3 separate regions of the Homo sapiens genome follow, and all the other regions are linked to region 1. The links come from fine-mapping of genetic effects on gene expression. A gene starts in region 1. Each other region holds a variant in brackets. All regions are shown on one strand. Distances are between the middles of the regions. Region 1 holds the start of HMCN2 (hemicentin 2). Region 2 overlaps HMCN2 (hemicentin 2). Region 3 overlaps HMCN2 (hemicentin 2).

Region 1 (4,205 bases):
CCATTTATGAGTCCTGCCTGGTTCCTGGCTCCTGTTGGCTTTTGCCTTCCCACAGCTGGGACCTCTTTCTCCAACAGCTGGCCCAGCCCTGCCCAGACTCTGGGGGTTATCACAGACTTAGCCCAGGGAGATTTAAAGAGCCAGCATTAAGAAGTGCAGGTGACTCAACTTCCTGTGAACTTGGCTGCAAGTTCCACTCCCTTGCTGGGTCTGGGCACCTGGTGGCACTATATTCCACGAGACTGGTAGCTCCGTGGGAGACCATTTCCCTCGGACCCCAGCTCTGGGCTAGAACAGAGTCCCTGCGGATGTGTGCTACCTCCCGCTGTGGCCAATGCCCAGCTGCCAAGCTTCTCTGATGCCTGCTGCCCCATTCAGGTGGCACACCTTCCTTGGGCACCTAGCATGTGCCGGGCACAGGATCTCTGCCATAGAACTCACAGCCAGAGTGGGAGAGGCAGGGCCCCAGACATGACATGGGCTGTACGGTGTGGTCAGAGCCAGGACAGGGCTCAGAGAAATGTGGGTTGCAGGGCAAGGGTTCAGAAGCAGCCTCAGAGGTGGGGTCTGAGCTGAGACCGAAGAGGAAAGGAAGAGCGTGGCGGAGGGGTGGCTTCCTGGCTGACGACTCTGCAGGGACAGGGGCTCAAGAAAGCGCCCCCCATCACTCACAGACCTAGAGCCCTCAGCCATGTCTCTGGGAGCATGGTGTTCTCGGAGGAGGGATTGAGGGGATTAGCTACCTTCTCGCACATGACTCAAAACCCGGCATTTCCACAAAAGCTGCGGTTTATTTATTCAGACAACATTAGTGCCTCCCCACCATGTGCTTGGATATGGGCTGGGAACTAGGGGCTCATCCAGTGTAGACCAAGGCCTAGCCGTGCCCTCAAGGGGCTTATAGGCCAGCGGGGAGAGAGGCCTGGAAACAGGTCCCGAGAGCACAGCCTGAGATAAGCAGCCGTGCCTGAGCCCATCTGGATCTGCCCGGAGCAGGAGGCTGAACCCAGTCCCAGGCAGCACCTCACGTGGGATGCAGCATCCACACATGCAGCCCATGGGGCTGGGGAGGTGGATGGGCAGGAGGATAGCCCTCATCCTCTGGAGTCACCAGGTGACCGTGTGACAATGTCTTTTAACACAAGGGAGGCAGCAGAGCCCTGGGCCTTTGGAGTCTTTCTAGATCTGGCCTCTGATCTTGTCTTCATTGTTTGATAATTGAGTGACCTGGAGCAAATGCCTTCACCTCTCTGAGCCTCAGTTTGCTCCTCTGTAAAATGGGCTTAGGGTTAGTATTTCATTCTAGGGTTGCAGCCAGTCTTCAAGCAAATAACTGAAAATGCTTAGAACATGGTTAACAACAAGACTTCTTGTTGATTATAATAGCAGTAGTGCTTGCAATAACCGGGAAGCACAGAGCCCACCTGGCAGAAGGAAAACGAATGGCAAAGTTTGTGTGTGTGTTGGGGGGCGGGGGTGGGGGGATTTGTCGCAGCACTGGGTGGAGGGAGCTGCAGAAGCCAGGGTCCGCTTTGGCCAGGCAGGGGTGGGGGGAGTTGGGGCTGGAGGGAGACTGGGGCCGTTGCGCCTCCCCCTCCCTCTCTCCCGCCCCCGGCGCGCCATCGGCGGGAGGCGCAGGTGTCCACTGCATCCTGCGCGTCCCCATCCCTCGCTGCCCTGGCCGGGGCCCCAGCTCCTTTCTGCCTTCCGCCCCGCGTCCTCCCCTAACCTCGGATCTGGACGGGCGAACAGTGGGGCTGGGAAAGTTTGAGTCACGATTGGGGGAGGGGAGGAGGCGGGCCGTGACCCTGAACGGGGTGGGCTCTAGGACCCGCCTCGGGCGCCCAGCAGGCGGACCCGCCGCGCGCCCCTATCCCTCGCGCACTGGCCGCGGCCCGACGGAGCAAGGCACTGCCTGCAGCCGCCGTGTGCACCGGGGCGGCCGGCTAGCTCCGACCTGCGCCTCCACCGCAGCACCCGCAGCCAGAGCCGCGCTCGGCATGATGCCCGGGGCGCCGCTCCTGCGGCTGCTGACCGCGGTCTCTGCGGCAGTGGCAGTGGCAGTGGCCGGGGCGCCCGGGACGGTAATGCCCCCCACCACGGGGGACGCCACCCTGGCCTTCGTCTTCGACGTCACCGGCTCCATGTGGGACGAACTGATGCAGGTGATCGATGGCGCCTCGCGCATTCTGGAACGCAGTCTGAGCCGCCGCAGCCAGGCCATCGCCAACTACGCGCTGGTGCCCTTCCACGACCCAGGTAGCGCCCCCGCACCCCCGCCCGCCGGGCGCCCCCTTCGAGGTGCTCTCACCTGCCTGACCCCCTCAGTTGGCCCCGAACGCACCTGGACGTCGTGGGCTGCGCCGCGGCTTGGCGGGCGCGCCTTCTCGGCATATCCGCGCTGCGGGTACCCTGGCCACCTGGGCAGTCCTTGCAGCTGTCCCTTCCCTCCCACCCCCCTGGAACATTCCCTCGCTCAAGGAACCTGCTCTCCCTGCTCTCCCGCGCCGTTGTGAGACTTCAGCAAGTGACCTCACCTTCCCGCGCCTTACCGGCCCCACCTATGAAATGGTGAGGATGGCCTCCCAGACTTGCTGAGATGTTGAAATGAGGCATTCCTCTCGAGGACTTGGGACGCTACGAGCCTTTGCAGGGCTTTTCCTTTGGCCAATTCTTAGAATTCGCTCCCAGCGGAGGCTTGGAGACCGGAATGGCTCCCAGAGGCAGGCCTTGAGACGAAATGGGGTCCACCACGGACCCTGCAGTGGGGAGCGGACTCACCCTTGCTGGTCTTGTCCCCTCGCCTGTCTTCCCTGGGGAAAGGGCAGCGCCTCTCGTGTGCTGGCCCCGTGGCCTCCACCTGCTGTGTTCTCACAGCTGAGTTCCGCCCTAACTCCTTCTTCCCTGCACGCTGCACCTCTGCTTCCCCTTTAACCCCCTGCCTTGCAGCTCAGTGTTAGGGGCGCCCTTGAAAGGGTCCCTGGGCGCTCCACTGTAGAGAGTCCCAGGGACAGCGGTTGCTGAGTGAGCTGCAGGTTCCCAGCGGCGAGGAGCAGGACTGCTTTCCACACTTCTTTTTTTTTTTGAGACAAGGTCTGGCTCTGTCACCCAGGCTGGAGTGCAGTGGCGTGATCACAGCTCGCTGCAGCCTCGAACTCCTGGGCTCAGGTGACCCTCCTGCTTCAGCCTCCCAAGTAGCTGGGACTACAAGCATACGCCACCATGCCTGGCTGATTTTTAAATTTTTTATAGACATGGAGTCTCTCTGTATTGCCCAGGCTAGTCTCAAACTCCTGGCCTCAGTGATCCTCCCACTTAGGCCTCCCAAAGTGCTGAAATTACAAGCATGAGCCACTGCACCCAGCCTCCCCAGCGTTTTTTAATGGAAAATTTCAAACTTACAGTAAAATGGGGAGAAACATACATGGAACCGCCTATGCCCACCGAGAGCCTCTGAGTCATATTTTGCTTTATCACATCTCTCTATCATTCACCCCTCTGTCAAGGATAGCTTTATAAAGCAACAAACAAACAAACAAACAACCCCCCCAAATAAAACACACACACACACACACACACACACACACACACACACACACGCACAGATTCCTTGCTAAATTGTACTGCAGAGTGTTCTTGTGCTGAAGAAATAGACGGTGGCCATTGGCTGTATGAGCCAGCAAGTCCTTGCAGAGGGATTTGCATTTATTAATCACAATACCATTACAGGTTCTTAGAAAATGGACAAAACAGTGGGAAGACATAGTTCTACGTAGGCTTCAGGCTGAGTTTGTGGTCTAGGGGCTTGGAGGCCCCTCTGCTTCCAGGAGTTCTGGGCACCACAGGGTTTTGCAGCTCAAAGCTCAGAAGCCAAGGCTCTAGACAAAGATTTCTAGGAACATCAGATGGACAGCTTCTATCTTGGAGTCAGGGGGCAACCAAGCTGGGGGTTGTGAGGAGGTGGGCTGTGAAGTGTGTTCTGGCACTTAAGCTGGAACACAGGTCACCCTCCGTCTCCCCAGCTCTCTCACCCACTTTCTGAATTGTTCTGGGGCTTCCGAAGACATCACACTGAAGGAGCTTAGAGATCGTTGAATCTACCCCTTTATCTTACAGTTGGAAAAACTGAGGCTCAGGACACTGATGAGACTTTCCCAAGGCCACCTGCCAGGGTGGCGTCATTCCTGAATCATAACCCACATTTG
Region 2 (4,205 bases), 34 kb after region 1:
TAAGCCAGGAGAGCTAAGATATCCTATGTGTAGTGATGGCGCGGGGACTGAAAACTGGCCTGTCCCCAGTGGAAGTGGGTGCAGGAGGCCACATGCGACCCTGTTGGGTTTCTGCTCTTGATAAAGATGTATATCCAAGATAATTTTTTTTTGAGATGGAGTCTCACTCTGTCACCCAAGCTGGAGTGCAGTGGTGCGATCTCTGCTCACTCTAACCTCTGCCTCCTGGATTCAAGCAATTCTCTTGCTTCAGCCTCCCGAGCAGCTGGGATTATAGGTGCGCGCTACACACCTGGCTAATTTTTGTATTTTTAGTAGAGACAGGGTTTTGCCATGTTGGCCAGTTTGGTCTTGAACTCCTGACCTCAGGTGATCTGCCTGCCTCAGCCTCCCAAAGTGCTGGGATTACAGTCATGAGCCACCATGCCAGGCCAAGATAATTTTTTTTAAAGAGAAACATTTGGGAGGCCAAGGTAGGAGGATTGCTTGAGGCCAGGAGTTCAAGACCAGCCTGGACAACACAGCAAGACCCCATCTCTACAAAATTTAAAAAATTAGCCAGGTATAGTGGTGCATACCTGTAGTCTCAGCTACTCGGGAGGCTGAGGTGGGAGTATTGCTTGAGCCCAAGAGTTTGAGGCTGCAGTGAGCTGTGATTGCACTACTGCACTCCAGCCTGGATGACAGAAAATTTAAAAAGACATTATGAAATTGGAGTCCAGTTCTACCTCTTCTGGGATAGTGTGAAAAGTACCACATTTCCATCAAGACAGTAAAGAAAACCAAAGAAAACCTGAACACGGGGAGAGTCTGGTCAGAAGTTGGAGTCCCCAAACTTGGTGTTTGCTTTATCTGAGGCCATTCCCTGAAGCCTGTCTGATTATGGCCCACACCAGAGTTAATGGGGTGGGGGACAGTTCTACTCCATGGGACTCCAACTCAGTGCAGTCAGAGGGGATGCAGCCATTGGGAAGCCGTGGTTGGACGACTGTGGTGTTTCAGCACCACGGACAGTAGCAAGGTCCCTATCTACCTATCCCACCCCCAGCGTTGGTCAGCACCAGGGTAGGTAGGGAAGGAGGGACCAGGTAGGAAGGGCCAGGCAAGCAGGACCCCTGGGGTGTGGTTCGAGGGCCCCTACTTGAGGGGGATCACAGAGGCAGACACTGACGCCAGCACTTTGTTCTTCACCTTCCCTCTGCAGGAGTCCCCATCTCCCTGGTGATCAATTCCACGGGCCTGAAGGCACCCGGCCGCCTAGACTCGGTGGAGCTGGCACAAAGCTCAGGGAAGCCCCTCCTGACTCTGCCCACGAAGCCCCTCTCCAATGGCTCCACCCATCAGCTGTGGGGCGGGCCGCCCTTCCACACCCCCAAGGAGCGCTTCTACCTCAAGGTGAAGGGCAAGGACCATGAGGGAAACCCCCTCCTTCGTGTCTCTGGAGTGTCCTACAGTGGGGTGGCCCCAGGTGAGTGGTTGGCTCTTTTGTCTCCCAGGCCCCTGGCTCATTCAGAGTCCCATTTCATCCTGGAGCCTTCCCTGACTGGATTAGATTAAATTAGATTAGAAAGTGTTTGTTCATTAAGCTTCTATGGACAGCTATTCCCTATAAGGCATTATGTTAAATACTAAGATGCTCAGATGTGGCTCTCAGCTCAAGGATTTAGAACAAAGTCATCAAGTCAACTATCCATTCATCCATCTACCCATTCATCCATCCATCCACCCATTCATTCATGCACTGACCCATTCACTCACCCACCCATCCACCCACCCATTCATCCACTCATGCACCCACCCA[T/A]CCACTCACCCATCCATCTACCCACTCATTCATCCACTCATCCACCCACCCATTCATGCATCCATTGACTCACCTATTCATCCATCCACCCACCCATTCACTCACCCATCCACCCACCCATCCACCCACCCATTCACTCACCTATCCATCTACCCACCCATTCATCCACTCATCCACCCATCCATTCATGCATGCATTGACTCACCTATTCATCCATCCACCCACCCATTCACTCACCCATCCACCCACCCATTCACTCACCCATCCATCTACCCACCCATTCATGCACTCATCCACCCACCCAATCATGCATCCATTGACTCACCTATTCATCCATCCACCCACCCGCTCACTCACCCACCCATCTACCCATTCATGCATCCATCCACTTACCCATTCATGCATCCATCCACTCACCCATTCATGCATCCACCCACCTACCCATCTATCCACTCACCCATCCACTCACCCATTTGCTTACCCATCCATCTACCCATTCATGCATCCATCCACTCACCCATTCATGCATCCACCCACCCATCCATCTATCCATTCATTCATCCACTCACCCATCCATCTACCCACCCATTCACTATTAATTCACCTATCTATCCATCTATTTATCCATCTATCCACCCATTCGTCCACCCACCTGTCCACCCACACATCCATCTACTCAGCATTCATTTTGAGTATCTACTATGTACCAGTCATGGTGCTAGGCACTGTAGACACAGCAGTGGGCAGGGCAGACATGGACTTTTGCTCTTCCATAATCACAATCACTGTCATAATCACAATCATCCGAGTCACCATTTGGACACTTTCCATGGGGCAGTCCTGGGCCAAGCTCCTGCCATGTGCTAGCTCACTGATGCTTACAGCTTTTCAGAGATGTGTCCCCACTTCATAGATAAGGAAACTGAGCCCACCCAGCTCACAGGGCTGCCGTGGGGGTGCCCAAGCTAATGCACACAACAAGACAGCATTTGGGTCCTCAGAGGCTGCACTCAGAATGTATCCATTTGTGGGCAAGGGCCCTCCAGTGTGGCAGCTGCTGTTACCGTTACATCATTGCAGGAACAGGTCACTTTGTCCTCCAATCTTTGGCCATGGTCTGTTGGTTCCCGTATGTGTGGCTTTTTGCTGGTTTCCTGTGTGTCCCTGAGGTCTCACCGTTCAGGCTGGAAGCTCCCAGGGAGAAGGGTGGATCTTTGGCCTTTCAGGTCTGCCCCTGGTCCTAACAGGGATGTCTAGGGCCACTGGCCATCTGGCTTCCTTGCTGGCTTCATTGCCTTTCTCCTGCCCACTGTCTCCCTCCCCTGGAGGTGGCCCGAGGGGAGCTTACAAAGGTGGATGTCATTAACATTCTAGTACTTCTTTGTGGGGGATCTCAGTGAGAGGCATCCTCCTCTGTCCACTTCAAATAAGGATGCAGGGAGGGGAAGAAGGGCCAGCTCTTGAGGCTGGCCACGGTGCCCATCGTGCCTACAGTGCCCATGGTTGGTGGAGGACTTTGAGGACCTGGGTGGGGCAAGGCAGGGCTGGGCAGGAGAGCTGGAGACCTCTTCTTTCCAGCCTCCCAGCTTCCACTCCCCTACTGTGGTTCCGGGGCCTCTCTTCCCTTGGCCTTTGCAGCCTTGAGGAGGAACTTTCAGGAAGGAATTTCAGCAGAGGGAATAACAGCCTCTATTTTCTTTCCCCTGTTCTTTCAGATGGATCCAAGAGTTTGGAGTTTAGCTCTGGCTTTTGTTCTCTATCTCAGCTCTAGATTAAAGTTGGGGAAGGGATTTGGTTTGGATTTTTGCTTCCTTCCCCGCCCTCCAGGTCTGGGAGGCTGGAATTTCGCCTTGTAGCAGGTGGCTCTGGGTTTGGAGAGATGAGGGTGGGCCTGTGGTCCCATTTAGCTCATGGAAATGGGGAGCCCAAACTGGCTTGGCAGAGGCTCCCAGGGTGCGTGGGTGAGTGGCGACTGCTTTGCACACAGCCGAGGACGTGGCTGGATGGTCAGACACCCCTCCCCCCCCGGGACAGATGTGGCAGGGAGCCTGGAGCATGATGTCACCGCCGCCTTCCCATCCCCAGCCTGGGCTCCGAGGAGGTCTAGTGCATTGTCTCATTCCCGGAGCATCTCTGCTGGGCTCCTCTGCTGGCGGGGATGGGGAGACGGTGACACAAAGGTTGAGCCCTTGCCAGGGGGCACCCAGCTCTGATGGGCCATGGCTGACCCAGCGGGGCAGTTTCTCAGACTTCTCCATTGAAGTAATTCCAATAGCCAAGGGAAGAGACTGTGTCACTCCAAGACCAGGCTCGGGCCAGGGAGGGGTCCCATGGGGCTCATTACAAGCTATGAGATTTTACTGAAGTCTCTGGTTTTATCTCAAAAATGTGTGTGAATTTTGCA
Region 3 (4,205 bases), 28 kb after region 1:
GGGTAATGTTCTCGCTCTGTGCGGACATCTAGTTCCCATCAACTTTTCATCTAACAGTTTTAGCATCCACTGAGGACTCTTGCCTGAAATGATATTTCATTAGGGGTTGCAAAATGATGATTTCCTAACTGCATCATTCCTCCCACATTTATGAGTGGGCATTCTTCCAAGAAGAAGAACTTTTATGCATCAAAAGTGACGGATAATTTGGTTTCTCTGAAGTACAATTTCTGTCGAAAAGGCACGGAATCACACTTAGTTCTTTCTCTTCGATTAAGGAGTCACTTCAGTTGTGGCAAGGGAGGCTTTACTGTTTTGAATTTTGCTTTCTCTTTTTTGAGTATCATTATGTGCACATGGATTATATTATTCAATGTGTTTCAATTGAGCACAGTTATTATTCTCTTTTGGGCTCAAGTTGTCCCAAATTTAGTCAGTGGGAGCTCCTTCAAGCTGGTTCCTATGTCCTTTTGATATGTCCCTATTTGTCTTTGAGAACTTCTTTGTTTTATGGAATAACCCATCATCCCAGGCTCACCTTATAAATTGCCTGCCCCAGACCTGGAATTAGCCACTTCTCCAAGGAACCCTCGTGGGGAATGGTATTTAGAAACCAAGATCTAGGTACTGGTGGTGATCATTGTTATTGAAACTTTGGGCCATCATTGCTTCTGGATCAATTGCTCTATCTATCTATCTATCTATCTATCTATCTATCTATCTATCTACCTACCTACCTGCCTATATACCTACCTATCAATTTATCATCTATCTCTATCTGGAGAACTTATACTGATATTTCCAATTCAAATTTCACATTGTAGATCTTTTACTTAGCTCATTTGATTTGATACTTGCAGCTGTCTCTTACATTTGTTTATAAGAAAAAAATCTTGATTCTGAAAATATTGACATCTTTACTTATTTGCTTTATCCAACAAGATATATAAAATGGGTTCAAAATCACAGTGCTGATAGTTCTTCCAAATAAAATCTACTCACTAAAGTTTTTTTTTTTTTTTTTTTTTGCGGTTCTTGTTGTCCTCCTACTGAGAAAGGATAGTTGAACCGCCGGGTTTGGAATTCACTTGGAGATGTTCTTTTCTCTCTGTGGTTGTGGTACCGATTTTATGGTTGAGCTCACTGTCTTTCAGTTTTAGGGTTTGCACAGGATGGACGCTCTTTGAGATAACTTGGCCTGGAAAGAGAAGGTCCAGACTTGAAGGGGCTCCCTTCCTCTCCCTCTGTCTTGGTTTCCTTGCTGGAATCTAGGTGACTTGGCTATTGCAAAGGAGGAGGTGTGAGCTGGGGAGAGGAGGGGTATGGAGTGAGGTGCCTGAGAGGTGGACTTGAGGTCAGCCTGATAGCTCTGCCCAGGAGATGCATGTCCTACTGAACTCACACAGCCAGCAGGTGCCTCCTGAGCACTCACTCTGTGCCTGGCAGTGAGCTCAGGGCTGAGACACACATGGGCACAGCAGAGGTTCTCTGCCCCCACAGAGATCCCAGGCCAGTAAGGATGAGAAGCCCGAATCCAATAAATGTGAATGACTGGAGTGCAGATTGCTGCAAAATAGTATGTATCAGGGAACAGAGCCTTTTCAGGATTAGAGAGGGCTCTTCAAGCAGCGAGCTGAAGTATA[G/A]CAAGGAGATGGTCGATGAGGAGGCAGGGCATTCCTGCAAAGAACACGGCATGTATGGGTGGGGGCTGCCTGCGGGAGGGGTGGGGTCCAGTGTAGCAGGCAGGGGGAGGCAGTGGCACAGTGACCTTGGGTTGGCATAGGTGCCTAGGACCATAGAACCTAGGGTCTTGAAGGCCATGGTCAGGATTTGGAGAAACTAAATAAGTTTGTGCTCAGTTTGTGGTAGGGGGAGTATCTCTGAGGGAGTTTGGGAACCTCCCGAAGTCATACCCTAAATGTGTACCTAAGGGATAGGATGATATCCCAGGCAAAGGGTCCTTACCTTTTATCTGATTCTCAGTGGCACTTGTCCAAAAGATGTAAGACTTTAGAATGAATAATCAATTATAGAAACCAAGGATTTAGGTCTTCTCAATATTGCAAAAATCCATCCAGCAATTCCTTACTTCTGTGGACTGGAAAGAGACCTGAAGTCTTTGCAGCAGTGCCTCTCAGTCCTGCTTAGGGAACGTGGCGCCCTGGTGGGAGCACAGTTGGAGGCCCCTGGGATAATCAGTCATGAACTACATGGGTCTGGGGGAGTTTCCAGATCTCCAGGGTTCATTGTGTGTAAGAGGCACCAAGAGGGCTTCCTGGAGGAAGTGTGGGTGCTGTGGAAGGAGGCCAGGTGGAGAAGTGTGGAAGAGTCTTCCCAGTAGAGGGACACACCCTTGCTCCTTCCCTCTGTGCTGAGTCCTCCGAATGCCTCAATTCAGGCTTCACAGCTTGGAGCCTATGGAAGCCAGGAGGGTCACAATGTGTGAATTGGGCCTGGTGTTGGACATGGAGGAGTGGGGTGGCCTTGGGCGACCTGGAAAGTTTGTATGCTGCCTAAAATCCATGGGAGGGGGAAGACATTGTGGGCACCTGCCGGCATCAGCTCCTCATACTTGCCTCCAGGTGCTGAAGTGGGTGGAGTCAGCGATCCAGGCCTCCAAGGTGCACCTGCTGTCCACAGACCACGAGGAGGAGGGGGAGCACACATGGAGACTCCCCTTTGACCCCAGCCTGAAGGAGGTCACCATCTCATTGAGTGGGCCAGGGCCTGAGATTGAAGTCCAAGATCCGCTGGGTATGGACCACCCCGGGGCTGGCCTCCTCTTTGGCCCCAAGACTGAGGTGGAAGCCCAGGATGGGACAAAGAAAGAGACCAAGGGTGACAGGGCTTCAGACATGAGGCTCCAGGAATAGGGAAATATGGGGTGGGGGGGACACGAAGTGGAGAGAGGGCGCCCATGGTGTGCGAGGAAGCAGGAGGGCCATAGCAACCGGCGATGGGAATTAAAGTAATGGCGGTCCCTGCATCGTGAGACTCTCCCCAAGTCTTTTCCGTGGTACCCCAGTGGATTCTCATGGTGGTGAGAACTTGTAGCATATTGTACAGATGGGAAGCTGGGGTTCCAGGTGCTGAGTGCTCATCAAGGTCAACAGAGTCAGGGGAAGTGTGATTCAGACATGGTCACCTGACCCCATGGTGTTCTGAGGATGTCATGAGCACCCAGGTCTAGAGGCCGGGCACACAGTCTGCCCCTGGGGATCCCTGAGGGTGGAGCGTGGAGTGAGGCAGTGGCCGAGGACCACCAAGACCCCTTGTCACTTCCGGGAAGACTGAGGCTAGTGTTTGGTGTACTGTGGATTCCTGGAGACATGCGGGGCTCCTGCCACCCCCAGCAAAGGGTTAGGGACTGAGCAGCCCTTGGGGCTTCCACAGGGAGGATCCTGCAGGAGGACGAGGGCCTCAACGTGCTTCTCAACATCCCTGACTCGGCCAAGGTCGTAGCCTTTAAGCCTGAGCATCCGGGGCTGTGGTCCATCAAGGTAGGGGCACTGGGTTGCAGGAGAAAGGTCGACTAGCTTTACTGGGCTGGAACCATCTTCCTCCTACTTGCCCTGGGGAGCCTGTGGCCTCGGGAAGCTGATGGCTAGAGTGTGGGTGGTGATGTGGTCGTATCAATAGAAGTAACGGGTCAAGGACAGAGAAAGGGCATTTTGCCTTGTACCAGTAGGAAGAAATAGAGTGGTTTGGGGTTACTTTGGGAACATTTAAGAAGGACTTGGAGAAATGACTTCAGGGTTCAGAGGTGCATAACCAAGCTGTGAAGAATGTGTAAAAGAAGCAACAGCAACTTTGGTGGGAGGGCTCAGTGGGGCAGGGCTGGCAGGAAGAGGAGGGCCCTGCTATAATCTACAGGGTGCTGGGAGCCAGGGACTGTGGGCCAGTTTGGCTCCCAACAGAGCATCCTGGGATGGGCAGGCTGCTGCCCTGGAAGAGTGGGGGCTCCTGCTGACCAGGCAAACATTTATTGAGCACCTTCTGCAGGCACTGTGCTAGGTGTTGCAGGTAAAGTGGCAGTACCACCTCCTGCCTTTCAAACTCTGAGCACCTCTGAGCCAAGAGCTGTAATGCCAATGGGGAGGGCAAGGCAGGGAGTTAGACATTCACGGGAACAGACAGGGCCTGCCGGGGCTGAGGCGAGCTGAGGGGCAACACAGCCTCAAGAGGGCTGCTCAGGTTTGGGTTGT

What was found. PIP is the estimated chance that this variant, and not a neighbour inherited with it, causes the effect.
Region 2: its variant is the best candidate, but not a certain one, in a credible set for the expression of HMCN2 in cerebellum (GTEx, PIP 0.66).
Region 3: its variant is the best candidate, but not a certain one, in a credible set for the expression of HMCN2 in gastroesophageal junction (GTEx, PIP 0.72).

What each region holds. Positions count from the first base shown.
Region 1 is chr9:130,263,879-130,268,083 of GRCh38, forward strand. It overlaps HMCN2 (hemicentin 2), which reads left to right and starts at 1,882. Exons shown (of 98, transcript NM_001291815.2): 1 at 1,882-2,259. The coding sequence starts at 2,001. LOC124902285 (a long non-coding RNA gene) reads right to left here and starts at 3,011. Exons shown (of 2, transcript XR_007061817.1): 1 at 2,538-3,011.
Region 2 is chr9:130,297,821-130,302,025 of GRCh38, forward strand. It overlaps HMCN2 (hemicentin 2), which reads left to right. Exons shown (of 98, transcript NM_001291815.2): 8 at 1,205-1,468. Among named protein-coding and RNA genes, the nearest start is that of HMCN2, 34 kb to the left of the region's middle. RefSeq lists an enhancer at 3,558-4,205. The variant T/A (reference allele first, on the strand shown) is at 1,802.
Region 3 is chr9:130,292,273-130,296,477 of GRCh38, forward strand. HMCN2 (hemicentin 2) reads left to right here. Exons shown (of 98, transcript NM_001291815.2): 5 at 2,583-2,754; 6 at 3,394-3,500. Among named protein-coding and RNA genes, the nearest start is that of HMCN2, 29 kb to the left of the region's middle. The variant G/A (reference allele first, on the strand shown) is at 1,644.